7 linked regions of the Homo sapiens genome follow. The protein of the gene in region 4 purifies or fractionates together with the protein of the main gene of each other region. This does not show direct contact. Each region holds a gene or a part of one and is shown on either strand. Other genes may lie near its edges. The genes, in order: PGAM1, UNC13D, RDX, G6PD, RPE, PGD and PDS5A.

The links.
Region 1: the proteins of G6PD (region 4) and PGAM1 fractionate together in Homo sapiens (co-fractionation; one large-scale study listed by BioGRID). This does not show direct contact.
Region 2: the proteins of G6PD (region 4) and UNC13D fractionate together in Homo sapiens (co-fractionation; one large-scale study listed by BioGRID). This does not show direct contact.
Region 3: the proteins of G6PD (region 4) and RDX fractionate together in Homo sapiens (co-fractionation; one large-scale study listed by BioGRID). This does not show direct contact.
Region 5: the proteins of G6PD (region 4) and RPE fractionate together in Homo sapiens (co-fractionation; one large-scale study listed by BioGRID). This does not show direct contact.
Region 6: the proteins of G6PD (region 4) and PGD fractionate together in Homo sapiens (co-fractionation; one large-scale study listed by BioGRID). This does not show direct contact.
Region 7: the proteins of G6PD (region 4) and PDS5A fractionate together in Homo sapiens (co-fractionation; one large-scale study listed by BioGRID). This does not show direct contact.

What each region holds. Positions count from the first base shown.
Region 1 is NC_000010.11:97,431,568-97,433,944, forward strand, and holds the end of PGAM1 (phosphoglycerate mutase 1), read left to right. Parts: intron 1-787; coding exon 788-957; 3' UTR 958-1,877; downstream 1,878-2,377. UniProt on the Homo sapiens protein: Catalyzes the interconversion of 2-phosphoglycerate and 3-phosphoglyceratea crucial step in glycolysis, by using 2,3-bisphosphoglycerate. Also catalyzes the interconversion of (2R)-2,3-bisphosphoglycerate and (2R)-3-phospho-glyceroyl phosphate.
Region 2 is NC_000017.11:75,834,405-75,837,904, forward strand, and holds part of UNC13D (protein unc-13 homolog D), read right to left. Parts: intron 2,515-3,500; coding exon 2,397-2,514; intron 2,293-2,396; coding exon 2,168-2,292; intron 2,026-2,167; coding exon 1,935-2,025; intron 1,853-1,934; coding exon 1,796-1,852; intron 1,706-1,795; coding exon 1,608-1,705; intron 1,503-1,607; coding exon 1,451-1,502; intron 1,374-1,450; coding exon 1,243-1,373; intron 1,126-1,242; coding exon 1,005-1,125; intron 660-1,004; coding exon 516-659; intron 313-515; coding exon 214-312; intron 128-213; coding exon 1-127. UniProt on the Homo sapiens protein: Plays a role in cytotoxic granule exocytosis in lymphocytes. Required for both granule maturation and granule docking and priming at the immunologic synapse.
Region 3 is NC_000011.10:110,230,615-110,234,114, reverse strand, and holds part of RDX (radixin), read left to right. Parts: intron 1-635; coding exon 636-878; intron 879-2,081; coding exon 2,082-2,246; 3' UTR 2,247-3,500. UniProt on the Homo sapiens protein: Probably plays a crucial role in the binding of the barbed end of actin filaments to the plasma membrane.
Region 4 is NC_000023.11:154,536,847-154,540,346, forward strand, and holds part of G6PD (glucose-6-phosphate 1-dehydrogenase), read right to left. Parts: intron 1-3,500. UniProt on the Homo sapiens protein: Catalyzes the rate-limiting step of the oxidative pentose-phosphate pathway, which represents a route for the dissimilation of carbohydrates besides glycolysis.
Region 5 is NC_000002.12:210,005,638-210,009,137, reverse strand, and holds part of RPE (ribulose-phosphate 3-epimerase), read right to left. Parts: intron 1-3,500. UniProt on the Homo sapiens protein: Catalyzes the reversible epimerization of D-ribulose 5-phosphate to D-xylulose 5-phosphate.
Region 6 is NC_000001.11:10,405,564-10,409,063, reverse strand, and holds part of PGD (6-phosphogluconate dehydrogenase, decarboxylating), read right to left. Parts: intron 994-3,500; coding exon 924-993; intron 1-923. UniProt on the Homo sapiens protein: Catalyzes the oxidative decarboxylation of 6-phosphogluconate to ribulose 5-phosphate and CO(2), with concomitant reduction of NADP to NADPH.
Region 7 is NC_000004.12:39,897,912-39,901,411, forward strand, and holds part of PDS5A (sister chromatid cohesion protein PDS5 homolog A), read right to left. Parts: intron 2,597-3,500; coding exon 2,515-2,596; intron 915-2,514; coding exon 866-914; intron 618-865; coding exon 478-617; coding exon of another isoform or gene 445-477; exon of another isoform or gene 103-444; intron 1-102. UniProt on the Homo sapiens protein: Probable regulator of sister chromatid cohesion in mitosis which may stabilize cohesin complex association with chromatin. May couple sister chromatid cohesion during mitosis to DNA replication.

The sequences.
Region 1 (2,377 bases), on a different chromosome or scaffold from region 4:
CCAGGAGTTTGAGACAGCCTGGGCAACATAGTAAGACTGCATCTCTACAAAATTTTAAAAGGCCAAGCACAGTGGTTCATGCCTGTACTATCAGCACCTTGGGAGGCCAGGAGTTCAAAACCAGCCTGAGCAACAAAGCAAGACCTTGTCTGTACAAAAGAAAAATGAAAAATTAGCTTGATGTGGTGATGCTCATCTGTAGTCCCAGCTACTCAGGAGGCTGAGGCGGGAGATCGCTTGAGCCCAGCAGTTTGAGGTTATAGTGAGGTATGATTGTGCCACTACATTCTAGCCTGGGTGAGAGAGTAAGACCTTGTCTCTTAAAAAAAAAAAAAAGGAAAACAAATATATATAAAAGAAAAAATTCTCCTTAGTCACAACCAGGCACAACTTTACACATGAATCTCAATTTGCATCTTCATCCCCGAGGGCCTAGAGGCCCACGTGTGCTGATTTTTGGTTGGATGGGCTGTACAGGGTATTTGAGATGTGTAGTCTTGCTTCACTGTGGGCTTCTAGATCCCACTTTGGTAGAGATATCTGGCCATATACCTTGCTGTAGTTTGTTGGTGGTCTATCTTGTATACCTTTTCTTGCTTTTCAGTTTAATGGCTGAGAAATAAGTATGGTGGGGGCCATTCCCTGGGTTCAGAACTACTATAAAGATCAGAAAGGGTGTCTTATTTTAATTTCTGTCAAAGTCCTTTATCACCTGGAGGACAAAGTAAACCTGGAGGGGTGATGTGGATTTATGTCTTGTGTGGCTGATGATGGTGGATGTTTTCAGGTCTCTCTGAAGAGGCTATCATGGAGCTGAACCTGCCGACTGGTATTCCCATTGTCTATGAATTGGACAAGAACTTGAAGCCTATCAAGCCCATGCAGTTTCTGGGGGATGAAGAGACGGTGCGCAAAGCCATGGAAGCTGTGGCTGCCCAGGGCAAGGCCAAGAAGTGAAGGCCGGCGGGGAGGATACTGTCCCCAGGAGCACCCTCCCTGCCCGTCTTGTCCCTCTGCCCCTCCCACCTGCACATGTCACACTGACCACATCTGTAGACATCTTGAGTTGTAGCTGCAGACGGGGACCAGTGGCTCCCATTTTCATTTTAGCCATTTTGTCGCCTGCACCCACTCCCTTCATACAATCTAGTCAGAATAGCAGTTCTAGAGCACAGGTTCTCAGTCTAAGCTATGGAAAAGCTCCCCTTATCCAACAGAGTTTAAAAGTAGTGACTTGGGTTTTTGCGAGTGCTTTGTTTACTAAGGACTTTGGGGAGGAACCATGCTAAGCCATGACCAGTGAGGAGAAGCAACAGAGCCTGTCTGTCCCCATGAGCGGAGTCTGTCCTCTGCTCTTCTGCAGTCAGGTCACTGCCTACTGCCTGGGGGCTCTAGTCATTCCAGTGGAAGACGAATGTAACCTGCGTGGTGATGTGACAACTGTTTCCTCCCTGACCCCAGAGGATCTGGCTCTAGGTTGGGATCAATCCTGAATTTCGTTATGTGTTAATTTACTTTTATTAAAAAAGTATAGTATATATAATACAAAACAATAACCCTTCTGGGGTTTCTTGTGGCGGTTGAAATAGTCCCACATGTGGTCATCAGAAAATAAGCCATTCCTCATACCAATATAGGATCAGCTCCTTGACCTCTGAGGGGCAGGAGTGCTTCCTGGTGTGTGTATTAGAATCCCTTCCTGCCTTGTTTCATGGCAGTGAAATGCCTCTTGGTCCTGTCCAAGTGTATCTTTCACTGATTTCTGAATCATGTTCTAGTTGCTTGACCCTGCCACATGGGTCCAGTGTTCATCTGAGCATAACTGTACTAAATCCTTTTTCCATATCAGTATAATAAAGGAGTGATGTGCAATAGCTTCTTGTGTGATGTGGAAGACCTTATCTGAGGAAACTTTAGCATTTAACTTGAAATGTCTCTCACTGCCCTAGTCCTTGTGTGGCAGTTTGTTTTAGGACATCCAGTCACAACTTTACACGGTTGGTCAAAAAATGACGCATCTCCTTGGGGTTTTCACGTCAGCCTGGTGAGCTGAGGTGGTGGTGGGAGGCCCTCCTGGCCAAGCCCTCCATTCACGTTGCCCCCTGCAGCTCTTGCTTGGTGCTCCCCTGATTGGAAAGTCACATTCTGAACTCCATTATATCCTCTTTAGAGTAAGTAAAGTCTGCTTTTTGTTTTTTCTTTTTGAGACAGCCTCGCTCCGTCGCCCATGCTTGAGTGCAGTGGCATGATCTCAGCTCACTGCAGCCTCCCCCTCCTGTGTTCAAGCAAGCCTCCCACCTCAGCCTCCTGAGTAGCTGGGACCACAGGCATGTGCCACCATGCTTGCTTAATTTCTGTATTTTTAGTAGAGACGGGG
Region 2 (3,500 bases), on a different chromosome or scaffold from region 4:
TGTTCTGCAGCTGCCCCTGCTCCAGCACGGCCCCTACCCGCTGCTCCAGGGCCTCCCATGCCAGCTGGGCGGGCAACTTGCCGATCACCAGCCGCAGCTGCTCCATGTCATTCACCACCACACACAGCTGGGACAGAGATGCAGAGCTTCCTGAACTGTGCCCAGGCTGGTCCCCACACCCAGCTAGACTCCCAGCCCCAGCTCTGGCCTTACCATGTTGGCTGCCTGGCCTTGGTCCTTCTGGCCTGAAGAGAGCTCGCGGGCCCGGGCCTTTATAAGGCTGCAGTACACCAGGGCCAGGCGACAGGTGTCCTAGGGTGGGGTTGGACAGAGGGAACTGATCCATGGGTGGGGCATCCAGGAAGGGCAGGTGGGAGGGCATGGGAATTTCAGCGACTTGGGGGATTTAGAATACAGGCCTTGGGAGGCTGCCTGGGTGAGAGCACGGGAGAAACGGTGGGTGGTAGTGTGGCTGTTCTAGAAAGAGGGGGAAGGACACGTGGAAGATGCCGCACCTCCACAAACTTGACGGTAATCATGAAGGCCTCCTCTGGGTCTGGCCAGTCCAGCTGCCGGGCAGTGTGGCTGATCTGGGCAAAGCAGGTGGATAGATCCACCGCTGATGTGCTGTGCTTGGTCAGTTCACCCAGGGGCACCAGCTGGGGGAAGAAAGGAGGACTCAGGATACTGCCAAATCCACCCCCTTCCCTCCTTCCTTCATTCATAGAGCAGCTACCATCACCAGGCACAGAGCTGGGCAGGGAGCTTCACAAGAGACAAGCACGGCTCCGCCCAGACCCCCAGGCTGCAGGATCTCAGGCAAAGTGAAGCCACAGCCCCAAGGATATCCAGAGGCAGCGTTTTGCACAAAACTGGACTCAAGTGCACCCAAAAGGGATGTTCAGAGCGGGTTACTGGCTTTTACTACGCTTTGGAGGTCCAGGCAGAACCCAAGCCTCACCCCCAAACCGGGGCCCCGCCCCCTGCCCTGGCCACGCCCCCACCTCATCCATCTGCACAGCGCGCTGCACCCGCGCCAGGGCCTCGTTGTACGTCTTCTGCAGCCAGGAGGGGATGGCCGGCTGGAACCAGCGGTGGAAATTATCCAGGGCCAGGACTCCATCCCTGGGGATTGCCGGGGCTCAGCGTCGGGAAGGCTGGGGCCACCATGGACCCTGGGGCCTCGTCCACCCTCCCCTCCCCTGTGCCCCTGCAGCCGCCCACAATTGGCCTGCTGCCCACCTCTCTGAGGAGCTCATGCGCAGCTGGCAGAGCTCCTTGAGGCTGATGTAGAGCTGGAACAGACTCTCGCCCATCTCTGGGGACACTACATCACCCACAACCGTCGTGTGGTCCTGCACCCGCTTGGCCACCTGCAAAGGAAAGGTGTGGAGGGCGGGGCCCACAGCTCTGTTGGAGGGCATGCCCTAGAGACGGGGGAGGGACTCACCAGCCACTGCAGCTCCCGGAAAGCCATGGAGAAGAGGTGGATCTTGAGGGTACTGGAGGAAAGGCAGCAGGTGTCACCCAGTGGCATACACCAGGGTCCCCATGGTTCCGGCTCTGAGGCAATGCCCCACTACCTCCCGACCTGGCTATCTGCTCACTTGTGGAAGATCTTGTCCCATGTGCGCTGGCACTGGTGCAGGTCGCCAATGACATCCTGTACCAGGCCCAGCAAGGCCTTGCCTGCCTCCGGGATGCCCTGCAGAGACAGAGGTGGGCTGGGCAGGGCTGCCAGAGGCAGGCACCACCCCCCGTGACCCCCTGCCCTCCCCCTTGCCCAGCCCCTCACCTGCACCATGGGTTGATGGTGCTGCTGCTTCAGGTGGAACCATTCAGTGGTGCCAGTCTGTCGACAAAGAGGCAGTGAGCAGGGAGGGACTGCCAGGCCCAGGCGCTGGTCTCCCCCATCCCCAGCGCGAGTACCATACCTGCAGGGCCTCAGTCACCAGCTGGGGCAATGGGGCGGTGTTGGGGCACAGTTCTCCAAAGGCCTTCATCTTGCACATCTGTACCAGGACCCTGCAAGATGGAAAGAGCTGTGTCGAAAGTGCCTGCTGCCCCACACTGCACTCACTCCTCCAACAATTCTCCCACTCCTGCAGGCACCCCAGCTGCTCCCTCATCCCTGACCCCACCGAGGAAGAGGAAGGCAGCCACTGACCTGAGAAGAGACTGCAGCCGGGCTGGGGAGTCCGAGACAGAGAGGGGGAAGACAGAGCGGAACCTCCGGATGAGGGAGAGGCCGTAGGTCAGCAGGGAGCTGAATGAGGCGGCCAGCTCCTCCTGCTGAAGAGCCAGGAGATGCTTTAGGGGCCTAGACAGCTGCTGCTGCTCCCCTGCCCCTTCCCTGAGCCCTGCCTGCTCAGTGCCCCTTGCCACTGCATGCCTACCTGTTCTGCCTTGAGCCGACCCTGGATCCACTGGTACTCGATGCTGGTGATGGGGTGCAGGAGGCAGCTGCTGGGGAACTCCAGGCTCTGGTAGAGGCGGCTGTAGGCCAGCCACTGCCTGCAGGGGACAGGAAGCCCTCAGCTGGACAGGGAGGAGGAAATTGCCTTCCCCTGTTCACCCGGCCTCAGGTGGGGGGAATCGCCTCCCATCCACCAGTACAGGCTGAAAACTAGTGGCTCAACAGGACATGCAGGATTGTTTTTGTTTTGTGTTTTTTTTTTTGAGATGTAGTCTCACTCCGTCACCCAGGCTGGAGTGCAGTGGCGTGATCTCGGCTCACTGCAACCTGCGCCTCCTGGGTTCAAGCGATTCTCCAGCCTCAGCCTCCCAAGTAGCTGGGACTACAGGCATGTACCACCATGCCCAGCTAAATTTTTTATTTTTAGTAGAGATGGGGTTTCACCATGTTGGCCAGGCTGGTCTCGAACACCTGACCTCAAGTGATCCACCCGCCTCGGCCTCCCAAAGTTCTGGGATTACAGACATGAGTCACTGTGACCAGCCAGGATTTTTTTTCTTTGTTTCCATAGATGCTTTTCAAATTGCCCAGATTGAGATCTTTGTGATTTTAAAACTTCAGGATTTCTTGCTGTTTTTGAAAAATTGGATTAGCTGGGCACAGTGGCTCACACCTGTAATCCCAGGACTTTTGGAGGCCGAGGCGGGTGGATCACCTGAGGTCAGGAGTTTGAGACCAGCCTGGCCAACATAGTGAAACCCCATCTCTACCAAAAATACAAAATTTAGCCAGGTGTGATGGCAGGCACCTGTAGTCCCAGCTACTTGGGAGGCTGAGACAAGAGAATCACTTGAACCTGGGAGGCAGAAGTTGCAGTGAGCTGAGATTGTGCCATGGCACTCCAGCCTGGGCGACAAGAGGGAAACTCCAGCTCAAAAAAAAAAAAGAAAAGAAAAGAAAAATAGGATCTATGAACCTGAGCCTTCGTGCACATGTGGCAAGCATCAGTGAGAACTTCCTTTCAGATGGTTTGGGGGGATATCACACAAACGAGGTCCCGTGGGAGGGCAGAGGATGGGGGAGA
Region 3 (3,500 bases), on a different chromosome or scaffold from region 4:
CTAAACTGGAGTACTTTTGAGAAAAAGGGGGTATTGTTCATAATTACACCAGGACAACAGTGTAACAGGACTTTTCCAGGTAAACCAAGATAATATGATCACCCAAATAATTGGTGATGTTAGATATTTCAGGTTGTATCATATCAGAAGACACTTAATATCTAGTTAACTCACCATTAGTATTTTTTAGTGATCATTGGATTTGAGTAACGACAGTCTCATTCCTCCGTTATTCGGTTACATTTTCCCCTTGTGGCTCAAATAAAATCTATTGGGTGTGAGATTCTTAGGCATTATATGAATATCTATTTCTCATCAACTATTTGCACAACAGTTTTAGCAAACAATTGATAATCCTTGCCAGAATTAATAGTTCTTTTTTTGCATGTATGCTTGTTTTTCTTTTAATCTGTCACTTTGAAGCTCACAGAGTAATTCTAATAGGGTTTGCATAATAATGTTTTTGATTTTCTCTTTTACCTGTTGACATTCTTTTATGAAAATAGAGGTTTCATAAATAGGGCCTATTTTCATTACCTTGAAATACAGTTTCTATTAAAAAGGGAGTATAACTTGATTGTTTTGATTATTAATTTTTGAAGTAAGTTGCTCATAAACGTATTTTTAATGTTCAGGCTTTTGCAGCCCAGGAAGACTTGGAAAAGACCAAAGAAGAGTTAAAAACTGTGATGTCTGCCCCCCCTCCACCTCCACCACCACCAGTCATTCCTCCAACAGAAAACGAACATGATGAACACGATGAGAATAATGCTGAAGCTAGTGCTGAATTATCAAATGAAGGGGTAATGAACCATAGAAGCGAGGAAGAACGTGTAACCGAAACACAGAAAAATGAGCGTGTTAAGAAGCAACTTCAGGTATTTAAAATTTGCAGTTGTATGTGCATTTGAAATATAGTTTGCATTTTCCCCATCTTAGACAAACTTAGTTAAAAAGAATATAGAAGTTTTAATACTGGCTGCCCTTGTGATTGGTTTGTGGGTGTTTGGCCTATAGTCATGTTATTTCATTTCTTCCGTTGTGTGAACCCATTAGCAAATACCTGTTAGCTTTGTATAATCAGACCTTAACTAGTGAGTTATTTAATTACAGCTTGACCCATTTTAAAAGGTAGAAAGTATTCTAATGTCATGTTGAAAAACGTGAATTTAGTTTTTGATCAGTAATATGTACATTGAGGGCCAGGCGCAGTGGCTCACACCTGTAATCCCAGCACTCTGGGAGGCCGAGGCAGGTGGACTGCCTGAGGCCAGGAGTTCAAGACCAGCCTGGCCAACATGGTGAAACTCTGCCTCTACCAAAAATACAAAAATTAGCCGGGTATGGTGGTATGAGCCTGTAATCCCAGTTACTTGGGAGGCTGAGGTATTGCTTGAACCTGGGAGGTGGAGGTTGCAGTGAGCCGAGATCATGCCACTGCACTTCAGCCTGGACAATAGTAAGTGACTCTGTCTCAAAAAAATAAAATAAAATAAAATGTACATTGGAAAGAATGATAGTTAATATACTATGTTTAAGACATTACATAATCTTAATTATTTGTTGAGATTTTATATTGGCAAAAGGTCAGTATATTACATGGACATAACTAGGTCAAAGTAGAGGATTTTAATATTATGAGCTTTCTTTTTTCCCAATAAGTTATCTAATATTTTAATTGTTAAAATCTTTAAATATTAAAAGAAAATGAGGTGATAGTTACAATAAATGTATTAAGACTTTTGGAGAAGGCTTCCCTTGAGGTATAGATTTTAAATCTCATAGTAATATTAGTCTGTAATGGCTACATTGAACTTTTTAGCCATTTCAAGTATTAGATTAGAAAGTTAAGGAAATTTAGAATAATGTACAAAATACCATGGTTGATAAATGTGGAAAGGCCATGTGTATTCCTCCCTTACCACTGCCACCACTATTACTAAAACAAACTTATACCTAAAGAAAAAGGTTTCACAGTGGAAATGATTTGGTATATGTATTTTTGCATCTTAAAGCCATTTTCATAAATTTTTTTAAATCTAAGAAAAAAATAATAGTTGTACTTTTTATTTTTTAAATAGGCATTAAGTTCAGAATTAGCCCAAGCCAGAGATGAAACCAAGAAAACACAAAATGATGTTCTTCATGCTGAGAATGTTAAAGCAGGCCGTGATAAGTACAAGACTCTGCGACAGATTCGACAAGGCAATACAAAGCAGCGTATCGATGAGTTTGAAGCAATGTGAGAGCTGTTATTTTGCATATATGTTCTTCATAAGCTGAACCACCAACAGAGAAAAGCAGGCCTTTGCAGATATGATGGAATGCATCCCACCTTGCCAAAGCACTTACACCAGTTTGACTGTGCTAGCTAAAAGACAAATTTAAGGGGAGCTCTTCAACATTAAGGCAGTATGATATCATGCTTGGTTTTCTTTTTTCTTTTGGTCCAGGGAATGGAGAATGGTGTTCCATTGCCTCTTTTCACATTTTTTTTCTTTTTCTTTTTTTTTTCTGTTGAAGATTAACACTAATTATCACGTCTGACAAATGTGTATGTGTGGTTTCAGTTCTGTGTACATTTTAAAGGATAATGGTGAACATTTTAATGGGTTTCCCTTGCCCTTTCCATATTTAACCTATTTCCACATTCTCTCTCACTCACATTTTCTCAGTGTGCCCTTCTCTTATCTGCCATGTCCATAGCCATAATTCCACCATCATACAGATCAGGCAGTGTTTAAAATGATGGTAGGTAGCACAGTGGACAGTCTTTGATCATCATGTAGAATATGGCTATGAATCAGGAAAGAGATTAGAACATTTAATAATGTATGTACAGCTGGTGCTTAGTTTTTTTTTAATCTAAATTTAATTACCTTATTGGATATTTGATATTTGGTTATTTAATCACAGTCATCTTTAACAGCTTACACTGATTGGTGTTTTATCTCCTGTGATCCTTTGATGGCTTTTTTTGCCTACCATTTCACAGAGGTTTAGACAGCAGTAGTAGCTCCCTAGGAGAGTTTACTGATGAAACAGCCTCTGCAAGATTTTAAAAGTTTTGTTCTTTTATAGACTGATTTAGAAAAACAAATGATTAGTTAAAAAAAGAAAATATACATTTGTTGGTAACTAATGTTATTTTTTAAAACCTGGACCTTTTCTGGAAGGGCAGCATATAAAAACATCAGTCCCGAGGAGGGGACAACAATACTACCTCACTACTACATCTGTGATGACTGGTTGTTCAAACACAATGGAGTGTGTAAGGTATATGTTTTATAATTCATAACCATAGCCTCGATCATCAAGAAATACTTTCGAAATTTCATTTTCCTTCAGAATATCTTAAGAGTGCTAAATTTTTAACTGCCTTTTTGTCGAGTCAAACTGTGGGATTCTGATTTGTATTAAAATTGTAAGCTCCTCACTGGTATACTATCATCCTGGAGGGGTGTTGTATGGCTGAGCAAGAGAGAGAGAGAATGAGAGAG
Region 4 (3,500 bases):
AAAAGATAGAACTGCAAGCCAAATTACCAGGAAGAAAATAGGAAATAATGACAAGTAAAATTAATAAAATTAAAAGCTAACCCAAAGAAAAGATGAACAAAGCTGGAAATTGGTGTTTGAAAAAGACGAATAGAAACAGACAACCCCCTGGCATGGTTGCTTTTTTAAAAGGGCATAGGCCGGGCACAGTGGCTTACTCCTGTAATCCCAGCACTTTGAGAGGCCGAGGCAGGCGGATCAAGAGGTCAGGAGATCGAGACCATCCTGGCTGACACGGTGAAACCCCGCCTCTACCAAAAATACAAAAAATTAGCCAGGCGTGGTGGCGGGTGTCTGTAGTCCCAGCTACTCGGAAGGCTGAGGTAGGAGAATCACTTGAACCCGGGAGATGGAGGTTGCAGTGAGCCAAGATTGCACCATTGCACCCCAGCCTGGGCGACAAGAGTGAAACTCCGTCTCAAAAAACAAAAAACAAAAAAACAACTAAACAGCTGGACGCGGTGGCTCAAGCCTATAATCCCAGCACTTTGGAAGGCCGAGGCGGATGGATTACCTGAGTTCGGGAGTTCAAGACCAGCCTGACCAACATGGAGAAACCGTTTCTACTAAAAATACAAAATTGGCTGGGCATGGTGGCCCATGCCTGTAATCCCAGCTACTCAGGAGGCTGAGGCAGGAGAATCGCTTGAACCTGGGAGGCGGAGGTTGCAGTGAGCCAAGATCAAGCCACTGCACTCCAGCCTGGGCTACAAAAGCGAAACTCCGTCTCAAACAAACAAAAAACAGAGCAATGGACCTGAGAGGGGACAGTGGCCACAAATCTTCCTACAGAAACAACCCCCTGGCATAGAGAGTGTTGCCAGTGGGTTCTACCAAAATGCAAGCACAAGAGAATTCCAGCCTGAAGCAAACTCTTCCTGCAGAAGGAAGAAAGGGGAACACTTCCCAAGCCACCTTATGGGGCCTACAGAGCCTTGGTACGGAAACCTGATGAGAAAGGCACATGGGAAAACCCATACGCCTCATTCACACACACATGCAGATGCAGAAATCCCACACGAAATATCAGCAGGCCGGGCACAACTCACACACCCCAGCACTTTGGGAGACCAAGGTGGGAGGAAGATTGCTTGAAATCAGGAGGTTTTTTTTTTTTTTTTTTTTTAAAGACATGGTCTCACTCTGTCACCTAGGCTGGAGTGCAGTGGCACGATCTCAGTTCACTGCAACCTCTGCCTCTGGGCTCAAGCAATCCTCCCACCTCAGCCTCTGGAGTAGCTGGGACTACAGGTACATGCCAACACACCCAGCTAATTTTTTGTATTTTTTGTAGAGACAGGGTTTCCCCATGTTGTCCAGGCTGCTCTTGAACTCCTGGGCTCAAGTGATCTGCCCGCCTCAGCCTCCCAAAGTGTTGGGATTACAGGCGTGAGCCACGACGACCCACTGACCCTGTCTCTTTAAAAAAAAAGAAGAAAACATCAGCAAACCAAATCCTGCAATGTTAAAAACGGTAGGTTTTTTATTTACAGAATAAATACATCTGTAAATAAAAAGTTGGTTTGATATTAACAGAAAAAAATCATTGAAATTCACCATATTAAGAGATTAAAAAAAACCTCTAAGAACTCTCTGCCTACTGCTATGTTTTGATTTTTTAAATCTAGCAATCTTGCTCAACCCAACAGATGTAGATCAAGTGTTTCAGAAATCACCTATTCACGCTAAAACTCTTAGCAGAGGGGGAATGCAAGGGAACTTCACTAACTTGATAAAGGGCATCTATAAAACACCATTCTGGCTGGGCGTGGTGGCTCAAGCCTGTAATCCCAGCACTTTGGGAGGCCGAGGCGGGGAATCGCTTGAGGTCAGGAGTTTGAGACCAGCCTGACCAACATGGTGAAACCCCATTTCTACTAAAAATACAAAACTTAGCTGAACATGGTGGTGTATGCCTGTAATCCCAGCTATTCAGGAGACTGAGGCAGGAGAATCGCTTGAACCAGGAGGGAGAGACTGGAGTGAGCCGAGATCACACCACTGTAGCCTGAGCAACAGAGCTAGACGTCGTCTCAAAAAAAAAAACCACCACCAAAAAACAAAGAACAAAAAAACCCCCAAACCATCATCCTTACAAATACTACAAATATCACACTTATAGGAAATGCTGAAATATTAATCATCCCTTTAAGCAATCAGGAACAAGAAAAGTGCAGTAAGGCAAGAAAATGAAAATGGCTGAAGTTGAGCTGTGAGGTGGTGCGGGTGCTCCCTCTGATCAAGTGAAACACACACCTATCCTGTGACCTGGCCGTTCCACCCCAAGAGAAATGAAAGTGCAAGTCCACACAAAGACCTGCACACGAATGGTCACAGCAGCCTTGGTTCATAGCGGCCCCAAACTGGAAACAAGTCAAACACTTGAATTAACATGTGACCCGGCAAACTGTGCATTCATACAACGGATACTACTCAGCAACACTGGGAAATCTCAGCATCAGAGATGCAACCCATTGTGACAGAAATCAGATCAGCGGTTGCCTGGAGCAGGGCAGATTGGCTGGGAATGGGTACCCAGGAACTTTCTGGGGAGATGACGATGGCCTTTATTGTGATGAGGGTGTACAGCCAATTGTACAGTTAAGATTTGCGCACCAACAAAAGACGGCGAGAAAACCAACAATGGAGCGGAGGGTGGGGAGTGGGTCAGAAATGACCCTTTGAGGGCCAGTGACTGTGAGAGCCCCAGGTGAGGGGGCTTCCTGGGTGCAGAGCATATTCTGTTTCTTGATCTAGGAGCAGTTTCTGTGGCTGTGCTGAGTTTGTGAAAAGTCATCAACAAGCTAGACCTGCACCATCTGTGTTCTTCATGACATGTATTTCTTTTTTTTTTTGAGACGGAGTCTCACTCTGTCGGCCAGGCTGGAGTGCAGTGGCGTGATCTTGGCTCACTGAAATCTCCACCTCCTGGGTTCAAGCCATTCTCCTGCCTCAGCCTCCTGAGTAGCTGGGACTCCAGGCACCTGCCACCACGCCCGGCTAATTTTTGTATTTTTACTAGAGATGGGGTTTCGCCATGTTGGCCAGGCTGGCCTCAAACTCCTGACCTTGTGATCCACCTGCCGTGGCCTCCCAAAGTGCTGGCATTACAGGCGTGAGCCACCGTGGCCGGCCCATGACATATATTTCAATAAAACATGGTAAAAACTAATAGTCTGGGCGTGGTGGCTCATGCCTGTAACCCCAGCACTTTGGGAGGCTGAGGAGGGTGGATCACCTGAGGTCAGGAGTTCGAGACCAGCCTGGCAAACATGGTGAAACCCCGTCTCTACTAAAAATACAGGCCAGGCGCGGTGGCTCATGCCTGTAATCCTAGCACTTTGGGAGGTTGAGGTGGGTGGATCACGAGGTCAGGAGATTGAGACCATCCTGGCCAACATGGTGAGACCCCGTTTCTACTAAAATACAAAAAATTAGCTGGATGTGGTGGTGCGCGCCTG
Region 5 (3,500 bases), on a different chromosome or scaffold from region 4:
ATCGTAATTTACTTCATTTCATCTTCACGACAGCCTTACAAAGTAGATGCTATTATTATCCCCTTTGAAGAGCACAAGATAAATAAAATCCTTAAGTAACTCAGTTAATAATTTGTGGAAGTGGATTCAAATTAAGTCTACCAGCCAGGCACAGTGGCTCACGCCTGTAACCCCAATACTTTGGGAGGCTGAGGCGGGCAGATCACTTGAGGTCAGGAGTTCAAGACCAGCCTGGCCAACATAGTGAAACCCTGTCTCTACTAAAAATACAAAAATTAGCTGGGAGTGGTGGCATGCACCTGTAATCCCAGCTTCTAGGCAGGCTGAGGCAGGAGAATCGTTTGAATCTGGGAGGTGGAGGGTGCAGTGAGCCAAGATCGTGCCACTGTATTCCAGCCTGGGCGACAAAGCGAGACTTACCTCAAAAACGAAAACAAAAACAAAAACAAATCAAGTCTACCAGACCCACGGTACTTATCCTTTACCCTACTCCAGTTAATCTTTTTGTTCTATCACTAGTTCACTTAAATCTTTAACAAAACCGGGGCCGGGCATGGTGGCTCACACCTGTAATCCCAGCACTTTGGGAGAACAAGGTGGCAGATCACAAGGGCAGGTGTTCAAGACCAGCCTGGCCAACATGGTGAAACTCCGTCTCTACTAAAAATATAAAAATTAGCTGGGTGTGGTGGCGTGCGTCTATAATCCCAGATACTCAGGAGGCTGAGGCAGGAAGATCGCTTGTACCCAGGAGGTGGAGACTGTAGTGAGCTGAGATCACGCCACTGCACTCCAGCCTGGGCAACAGAGCAAGACTCCATCTCAAAAAAAAAAAAAAAAAAAAACAAAAACAAACAAAAAAAATCCCCTATATGCAAGTACCATACTAGGTGCTTCAGAATACTGTTTTGTAAAGGAAATACGCTACAGTTCCTATGACAGAGATTGACAGCTAATGAATGACTCACCAGAATTCACAACCCTACTGCTATCGTATAGTTGTCAGTGGGATGTCAACTCAGTCAAACCTTTTCATTCCCAGTTCCCTTTATATTCAAGTGGCCCATGTGACTTTACATCCCAGTTCCCAGTTCCCTTTACATCCAAGTGGCTCATGTGACTCTCACCACCAGACTGTGAGTGCAAGTAGTGTGTCACTGCAGAGCTCAGAAGGTTAAGGAGAATTCCTTTCCTATTGCCACTTTACCCTTCTGCCAACAAAGCCCTTACAGAATGGAAGAGCCACAGAATGGAATAACACTCACACTGAACTCTTTTATGAATGAGAAACTAGAATGCTAAGCTACTGAAATCTGGGCTTTGTTAAAGCAGCAGGTATTATCCTATATGAGGATTACAAGAAAAGCTATACAATAACAGGCAGGTAACGTGATTATAGATAAAACATACATAAAATAAGAGCAAGTATTAGAGAACGTTAAGAAAGAAGTTCATGAGATTTACAAAATAGGATTTATAAAGATGGGAAAAGAAACAAAGGCTGAAAATGAAGCAAAAGCAGAAATAAGCAAGTTACAGTCAAAGACGTGGAGAGTGGTATTGACCAACTTTGGCTAGTGTAAAAAAAAGATGGGAGGTTGGTAGTATCACATTAAAGGTGTCAAATGCCAAGCTCAGTGTCTGGACTTTTGTCCTGCTGTAAATATGAAGTAAGATCTTAAAGTGAGAAATATTAATAAATAAGATAGGATGGGAAATAAATTACAAGAGGGTAGGTGACTGCAATTGCCACTTGGTAAGTGGCAAGGAACACTAAGAATGACAAGACAGGCAAAACTGATTGGATCTGTTAAATGATTAGGTGTGTGGGAGGGGAGTTAAAATACAAACTATGTTTAAGGTCTCACAGTTAGATGACAGGTAGAATGAGTGCTAATAAAAACCAAACTTATATGTGGGCCACACACAGTTCTAAAGACTTTCTGTATATTAAATCATTAAAACCTCACAACAACCCTATGAGGTAGGTACTTTTATTAACTGTATTTTACAGATGAGGAACAGAGGCCCAAGGTCACACAACCAGTAAGTGCTGGAGGCAGGAATTAAACATAGGCACTATGGCTACAAAGTCCAGACTCTTAACTACTATGCTCATCTGTCCCTATAATGACAACAAACGAAACAAACAAGGGGAAAAAGTCTAGCGGAGAAGAGATTCAAGAGAGAGAGGTAAGGATTCAGGACACATCTGAGAGGGACACATAAGGTGGATGGGAACAGACACTTTCACTCAATAACACCTTGGTCTTTGGAGGTTTAATTTCTATCATTAAAAAAGTGATTCTAACATTTGCCTGAGCAATGATTGTCAGGGCTGTGGATAAGATGCATGTGTTTACTTAGAACTTGAAATAAGGGTCACAGAAGCAGGCAGTAAGGCCTATTGAATGTTTTACAATTCTGGAATTAAAGATCTGAATTTCACATACTGTTCTTTTAATTTGCTGTGTAGTCTGGGAAATAGTTTCGTTGTCTTAACAGTAGGTTTCATTTATTATGAAAATAAAAGTATAATAACCACCTCCCGAGTAAATAAAAGAACCAAAAAAAATACACTTTTACTTTTTTGGGAAAACCTAAACAAAACGTATAAAAATACTAACCCCAAAGTTACGTGACTTAATTTGTGCTTTTGAAAATCAATTCAATGCACTAGGTTCACGAAGTATATTGGAAGAACAAGAATGCATCAGTAGTCTCAAAAAAAAACCCAAAGGCTACGCTAAGCCATAACAAAAAGGGGCTACAATCCTAAGCACGAAGTCAGGGTGTCCCAAATTTGCCAAACAGTAACCATGAGAGCAGTTCTAATGTATTTACAGTCTCTACCTCAGCCTACTGACTCCAAAGAGGACCGGGAATCTGAATTTTGAACAAATGCCAGAGGGAGTTAACAGACCAGCTTGGAAAACACTTAATTATTTCACTTAACAGAGAGAAACTTCACTAAAAAGTCTGCTTCATCATTATCTTATTCTGCCTCTTTTTCCTTTAAGTTATTTCCTGGAGTTAGTTAAGTGTGAAAGAAATAAAATAAAATAAAAAGGTATCCCTTTCTTCCAGGGACTTACTGGAATTACACTATAATTTTTTGTAATACAAGGATACAATTTTCTCTCTCATGTTCCATCATCACTCCTAAGCTTTACTTACGTAATTCTAACACAATCTACTGCAGACAGATCAAGCCATTTACCCTATCTCCCAACAAGGCAAAGATGGTAAGAGGAGGATTAGAGTTGCTATAAAAGGTACAGGACTGTAACTAGAACACAATCTTCCTGTGAATCAGGAATCACAAACTCAATGCTGCTGAGAGTTAGGTAACATCAAAGAGCAAAACAGAGCAGATAGGGAAAGGGGCCAAATGAAGTACACCCCACATGACTAAAGGTGAGGCTGCCCCTGTCAGCTCCAGCGCATGTCACCTGGTAAGACTGAGGGCCCAGTGCTAGCAAGTCTTTGAACTGTTTTTT
Region 6 (3,500 bases), on a different chromosome or scaffold from region 4:
AAGTCCATGAAGGGACGTGGCTTGCCTGATGTCACAGTTAAGTTTATGGAAAGCCAGAACTGCCACTCAGGTCTCCTGAGCCTAATGCTTTTTTCCATCCACAGCATGGCTGAACTACAATATGAGATAAAGTTTACTTTAACAGCAACACGAGGCCGGGCATGGTGGCGCATGCCTGTAACCTCAGCACTTTGTGAGGCCAAGGCAGGCAGATGACTTGAGAGTCCAGGAGTTTGAGACCAGCCTGGGTGACATGGTGAAACCCCGTCTCTACAAAAAATACAAATATTAGCTAGGCGTGGTGGCATGCACCTGCAGTCCCAGCTACTCAGGAGGCTGAGGCAGGAGGATTGCTTGAGCCTGGGAGGTGGAGGTTGCGGTGAGCCAAGATCGCACCACTGTACTATGAACTAGGTTAGGCCTCCTTCATATTCAGTGAGGGTGCAAGTCCACAGGTTACTTTGTTCAAGCACAGAATGCCTGAATCCCACACTACAGGATGGGGAATTTTCCACGTTCATGGAATGTTGACACAGCAACAGTACCTTCAATCTTCCACCTTTCACCCATGCAAGCAAACGCCACTTTTGATTCTGACATTCTTTCCTTTGGCCATGAAATAATATGGCTCGAAAAAATCTTATTTCACTTCATCCTATTCCTTTTTAAAGAATTCATCTTTTAGATGAATTATAGAAGGCTGCTTTTAATATCAACCTCAAGGCTATGAACAGTCAGCTAAGATACAAAGATGTGAACAGCAGGCATGCATTCTAGGCGTTGGCTATTCTAGCAATCAAAGATCGAGACGTTTATGTCACCAAGCTAACCCCTGGGAGACCACGGTGGCCTTTCTCCACGCACTTCATCACTTAGACACGCCCATGTTGCCAATTGGCTTTAAAGAGTAGCCCAGAACTTGCCCAGTCACAGCAGGGTTCTCCAGTTCCCACTTTTGCAGCAATGCCTTGGAAGATGGTCTTGATGTGGGGCCTGTGTAAAGAAACAGTGTGGTTCAGTTAATGAGAAGAGACGGGCTGAGAGCCCATACCCATAGACACCAACATACCCATAGACACCAACCCCTATCTTTTCCTTTCTTTTTTTTTTTTTTTGAGACAGGGTCTCACGTTGTCACCCAGGCTGGAATGCAGTGGTGTGATCTCAGCTCACTGCAGCCTCCTCAACCTCCCAGGTTCAAGTAATCTTCCTGCCTCGGCCCCCTAAGTGGCTAAGACTACAGGTATGTGACACCACACCCAGCTCATTTTTTTGGATTTTGTAGAGATGGGGTTTTGCCATGTTGCCCAGATTGGTCTCGAACTCCTGAGCTCAAGTGATCCACCCACCGTGGATACCCAATGTGCTGGGATTACAGGCATAAGCCACCACCGCACTGGGCCCATCTTTTTCTTTCTAATGGGAGGTGGAAGTGCCCACAAAAAGATAATGAATGTGCTAAGTTCTCAAGGTCAACTGCAGACCCTTGACTGAAACTGGCCCCTCCTCCAGGTCCTGGTGGGCCCTCAAAGCAGACTGGACTATCGGACTGAGACTACAGACAGAAAGGCTGAGCAGAAGCATCACCAAAGCACCAGAAGAAATGTCTTCTTAGAGACAGGGTCTCACTCTGTTGCCCAGGCTGGAGTGCAGTGGCACAATCACGGCTCCCTGCAGCCTCAAACTCCTGGACTTAGGTGATCCTCCTGCCTCAGCCTCCCAAGTAGGTGGGGCTACAGGTGTGTGCCATCACACCCAGCTAATTAAAAACTTTTTTTTGTAGGGACAGGATCTTGCTATGTTGCCCAGGCTGGTGTTGAGCTCCTGGCCTCAAGCAATCCTCACACCTCAGCTTCCCAAAGTGCTGGGACCATAGGCGTGAGCCACCATGCCTGGCTAATTTTTTGTTGGTGGTGCAGAGATGGGGTCTCCCTATGTTGATGTGGCTGGTCTTGAACTCCTCGGATCAAGCACTCCTCCCACCTCAGCCTCTTGAGTCACTGAAATTACAGGCATAAGCCATCGCACCCGGCTCAGAAATTTCTACTGCAGCAGCAGCAGACAGTATGATTGCAAACAGCAGGCAATACGAAAGTTCCTTTAGAGATCCTCTTTTAATTTTTTCCCTTTTCTTTATTTCTCCTTATAATGGCTTTTAGCAAGTGAAGAGACCCTCTTTCATTTGTCTGGATGTGTGCTGCCAGGCACAGAATGGTTCTGGACATTTGGATTAAGAACCAGGCAGCGTTTTTGAGAGCTACATTACCATTCAGAGAAAGGCCGCTGTTCATTCCTTCCACAGCTCAGCACGCGGATATATTACTCTTGAGACTTTCCCTCACTGTTCTGCTCCCTAATGGCCAGTCAAGGCTTCCTCACAAAAAGTTTCTGGTACAGACATGAAATCTTACAGGGTTGCAAAGTTAACATTTAGGATTAGGGATGAAGACAGCCACACCGGAAACCGCAGAGCTTCACTGAACTTTTACAGTGTCCTTCTGGTAAAGGTGCCATTTGTACTTCTGCCACCACAGTATGAGGAAAGAGAACTGATGGAAACAACTGGAGCACTCCATATGTCAAATACTTTTACGTGCATTGTCTGCTGGTTGCCTTTCTAACTGCTCACTGTGCAGGTGCTTCGAGATAAGTATTTTCAAACCTTTTTTTTTTTTCTTAAGAAACAGGGTCTTGCTATGTTGTCCAGGCTGGCCTTGAACACCTGGGCTCAAGCAGTTCTCTCACCTCAGTCTCCTGAATAGCTGGCACTACAGGTGCAAGCCACTGCACACACAGCTGTTTAAACTTCTGAGAAGCAGAAAGGCCTCTCTACTTCTGTGTTTTATTAATAACACACTGAAGAGAATCCCCAGACTCATTCACCAGAAAGGTAATTAAAAAAATTATTTTTGGCTGGGCGCAGTGGCTCACACCTGTAATCCCAGCACTTTGGGAGGCTGAGGCAGGCAGATCACGAGATCAGGGGATCAAGACCATCCTGGCTAACACGGTGAAACCCCGTCTCTACTAAAAATACAAAAAATTAGCTGGGCGTGGTCGTGGGTGCCTGTAGTTCCAGCCACTTGGGAGGCTGAGGCGAGAGAATGGCGTGAACCTGGCAGGTGGGGCTTGCAGTGAGCAGAGATCGCGCCACTGCACTCTGCACTCCAACCTGGGCAACAGAGCAAGACTCCGTCTCAAAAAAAGAATCATTTTTTCTTTTTTACTGAGACCGAGTCTCGCTCTGTCACCCATGATGGAGTGCAGTGGTGAGATCTCGGCTCATTGCAACCTCTGCCTCCCAGGTTCAAGTGATTCTTGTGCCTCAGCCTCCCATGTAGCTGGGATTAGAGGTGCCCTCCACCATGCCCGGCTAATTTTTGTATTATTAGTAGAGAGTTTCACCATGTTGGCCAGGCTGGTCTTGAACTCCTGACCTCAAGTGATCCTCCCATCTCAGTCTCCCAAAGTGCTGGGATTACAGGCGTGAGCCACCATGC
Region 7 (3,500 bases), on a different chromosome or scaffold from region 4:
CCTGATAGCTTTAAGAATATTGGTTTTAAATGAGTTCAAGAGAAGAATGAAGACAAAAGTCTAGATAGGAATTTACTTTATCTGTAAATGAAACCAGATATATGGCAATGTTACTACTACTAATTTATTGACGATTATTTCCATTCTAATACATGAAAGAAGAAAATGCACATGTACACAAGCATTCAGAAAATACTTATCATTACTCAATGAATGTCTACTAAGTTCAAAGTACTTTATCTTGTAAAATTCCTAAGACCAATCTCCCTGGCTTAGTTCTTTAGTTATTTTCCTGGAATGTGGCTGAGAGTGAATGGTAAATAGAGAATTAACTTGACAATAGATATACTCCAAAGTAATTCAGAGCTCACAATATTGTTACATTTACACAAATCACTGTATGTAAAACAGGCTTTAATAAAATACATATTTCTGTAAGTAAAGCTAGAGAAAAAGTGTGAAGTATGATTTACTAACCACACAAATATCTGCTTGTTTGCAAGAACAGGTTGGGCTAATTAATAACTCCAACTGAGACCGAAGTTTCTCATCATCGCCGAGAACCTGGTTAAATTTCTTCACAAAATCTTGTGCTTTCCCGGGGTCAGGCAAATTCTCTATAAAATTAAAAGAGAATCAATATTAGAGAAGGAAAAAAAAAAAACTATTCTACTAAGCTAAAAACAGGTGCCATCAAAATATTGCGGAGCCACTAAAAGAAAATCAGCCTAGCTGGTTCTTAGAAACAAAATTAAGATAAAGATTATTTTCTTTTACTTAACATTAAATCAGTAGTCCCACTGGGTAAATACTTTGTCTGCATTTACGTTTACTACATGTTTAGTGAGTAAATAAACATACTCACTTGCTATGGTCATCAGTTTTCCAAACATGGCAGAACAGTTAGCCTCTGACTGAAATTTAAAACAGAAACAAAAGAACAACTAGTCATATGTGTTAACAAATTTCCCTAACAAAAATCAATACTCATTACTGTACATTTTTCATGACGTTAAAAAATAAAGTTCATCACAGTCTGCTCAATGGAAAATGGTTTTACCACATATATACGCTAAACTAACAACAAAGAATTACATAGTAGCAACTATTAAGACAAATAGAAGGAAAGGAGATGTTGGGAGGAAGGTACTTAAAAACCCACAAGTATATAACTTTCACAGGAAAGTTACATTGCCAGAAGATTGAAAAAAGATCAATGAAGCAATCAACATATAAACTTATCATATCAGAATTACTATGAAACTACATGCCACAAAAAATTAACTAAAAATATAGAGAAGAAACTTTTTTTTCTGCAATAGAGTTCTGTTAGCTACTTTGTGGCCCGTTACTTAAATACCTTCAGGAAAACCTCCTTTCTAAAACGTACTTCCCTTTCCTGTATCCCATAAAACATTACTTATTAGTTTTCATTTATACTAAATTTGAATAATTTAGTTCAAAAGTTAGAAAACTATGCCCCCATGAGCTACCTGTTTTTGTTAGTAGTTTCGATGGAATATAGTCATGTCCATTCATTTATTTATCGTGTATGACTAATTTTGCAAAGGCAGGGTTGAATATCTGACCACAGACTCTATGCCTTGCAAAATATGTTTTTGCTATCTGTTGATTTATTTTCAAAGTTTGCTAGGCTAGGTGCAGTATCTCACACCTGTAATCCTAGCAATTTGGGAGGCCTAGGCAGGCAGACTGCATGAGCCCAAGATTTTGAGACCAGCCTGGGAAACATGGTGAAAACTCACCTCTACAAAAAACATACAAAACCTAGCTGGGTATGGTGGAGCACACCCGTAGTCCCAGCTATTCAGAAGGCTGAGGTGGGAGGATCACCTCAGCCCAGTGACATCGAGGCTGCAGTGAGCTGTGATCATGCCACTATGCGACAGCCTGGGCAACAGAGTAAGATCCTGTGTATTAAAAAAAAAAAAAAAAAAAAAAAAAAAAGTTTGCCCGCCCCTGTTCCAGCATCCATGTGTCCTTGAGGGGTCTGTTTATATGGTCCCCTGGTTAAGAACACCTATTCTAGTGAACACACGTAAAAATGTAAAGTTTTTTTCCCCAACCTTGCAAAAATTTAATGGCATTTCTTTTTTAGTTTGCCATTGGCATATTTATAGGATTGATATCTGATATTCACTCTACACTGAGAGACCATGAATCATGCAGTGAAAAAGAAATATGATGTTTAATGTAATTTTATCTCAAAATTTAATTCTAATTATTTGAAAATTGATTAACTATAAACTCTTAGTGTCTGAAAACTTTATATAAACTAGAAAACACCATTTCTTTGCTCACACTAGAAAATAAGAGTTTGTTATATTTATTTTAAATGGAAATTTAGCTTGGACAACTACAGAAATTATATTTAACTGACATTTGGAAAATAAAACAACTGAGATACTTTTTCCCTGCTTCATTACGTAGAACTACAGAAAATCTGAACAGTGACTATAATAAACTATGAATTTAAACAAATCATGAACCTACTGTAGGCTGCTTGTGCAAATCCAATAGTTCGCGTACATGGCTCCGAAGCATGTTCTGACACTTCCACATTTCGTTGAGAGCTCTGTAAAGTTATGAATATGAAAACACACATTACATAACAATACTGGAAATTATTCAGCTTTACAACCTTTCTTGTTGCATGCTGTATATACACCATTCTTCTACATCTACCTAAAAGTTTAAATACCGGGAAATATATTTATTAGGATTTAAAACAATTTAGTACAAATGGTAAATATAAGCCTTCTTATGAGAGAAAATATTTGAGAGGTTTAGAAAGATTAATAAGTAATACAGGGATTGAAAGATGTACTAAATACAGGTAGCTAGAAAGTTTTGGTACAAGGAAAGAAAATCTCAAAGTGCAAGGGACATAAAACAAACTGAAAAACATGTATACGCTTGGAGCACAAGGCATGTGTGTGGAGCATAAGGAAGCTGGAGCATTCCACAGACACAGATCAAATCATGAAGGCCTTATTAAAAAGGCTAAGGCATATACATGAAGCACTATAGACTATTTTGAAAAATGAAGTATCAAAAATGATGCAGATTCAAGATGCCAAATTTACATTATTGTGTTTATTCTAAACTTTTCTCTCTCCAGGAACACAGATTTTCTTCTCTCAGAAATCCCATCCATATTTCCAGGTGCCCAGATGACCTCTGAGAATTACTAATCTCTAAACACTCTTTGTCAGATATTTTGAAATGTAAACAAACATCAAAACCTTAAGCAAGGAAAGGGATTAGTAACCATGATACAACACTATCGTAATAGAATTTCTGCCAAAATGACAGTCTTTTTTTCTTTTCTTTCTTTTTTTTTTTTTTTTTTTTGAGACAAGTCTCACTCTGTTGCCCAGGCTGCAGTACAATGGGATAATCTCGGCTCACTGCAACATCTGCCTCCTGGGTTCAAGCAATTCTCCGGCCTCAGCCTCCCTAGTAGCTGGGATTACAGG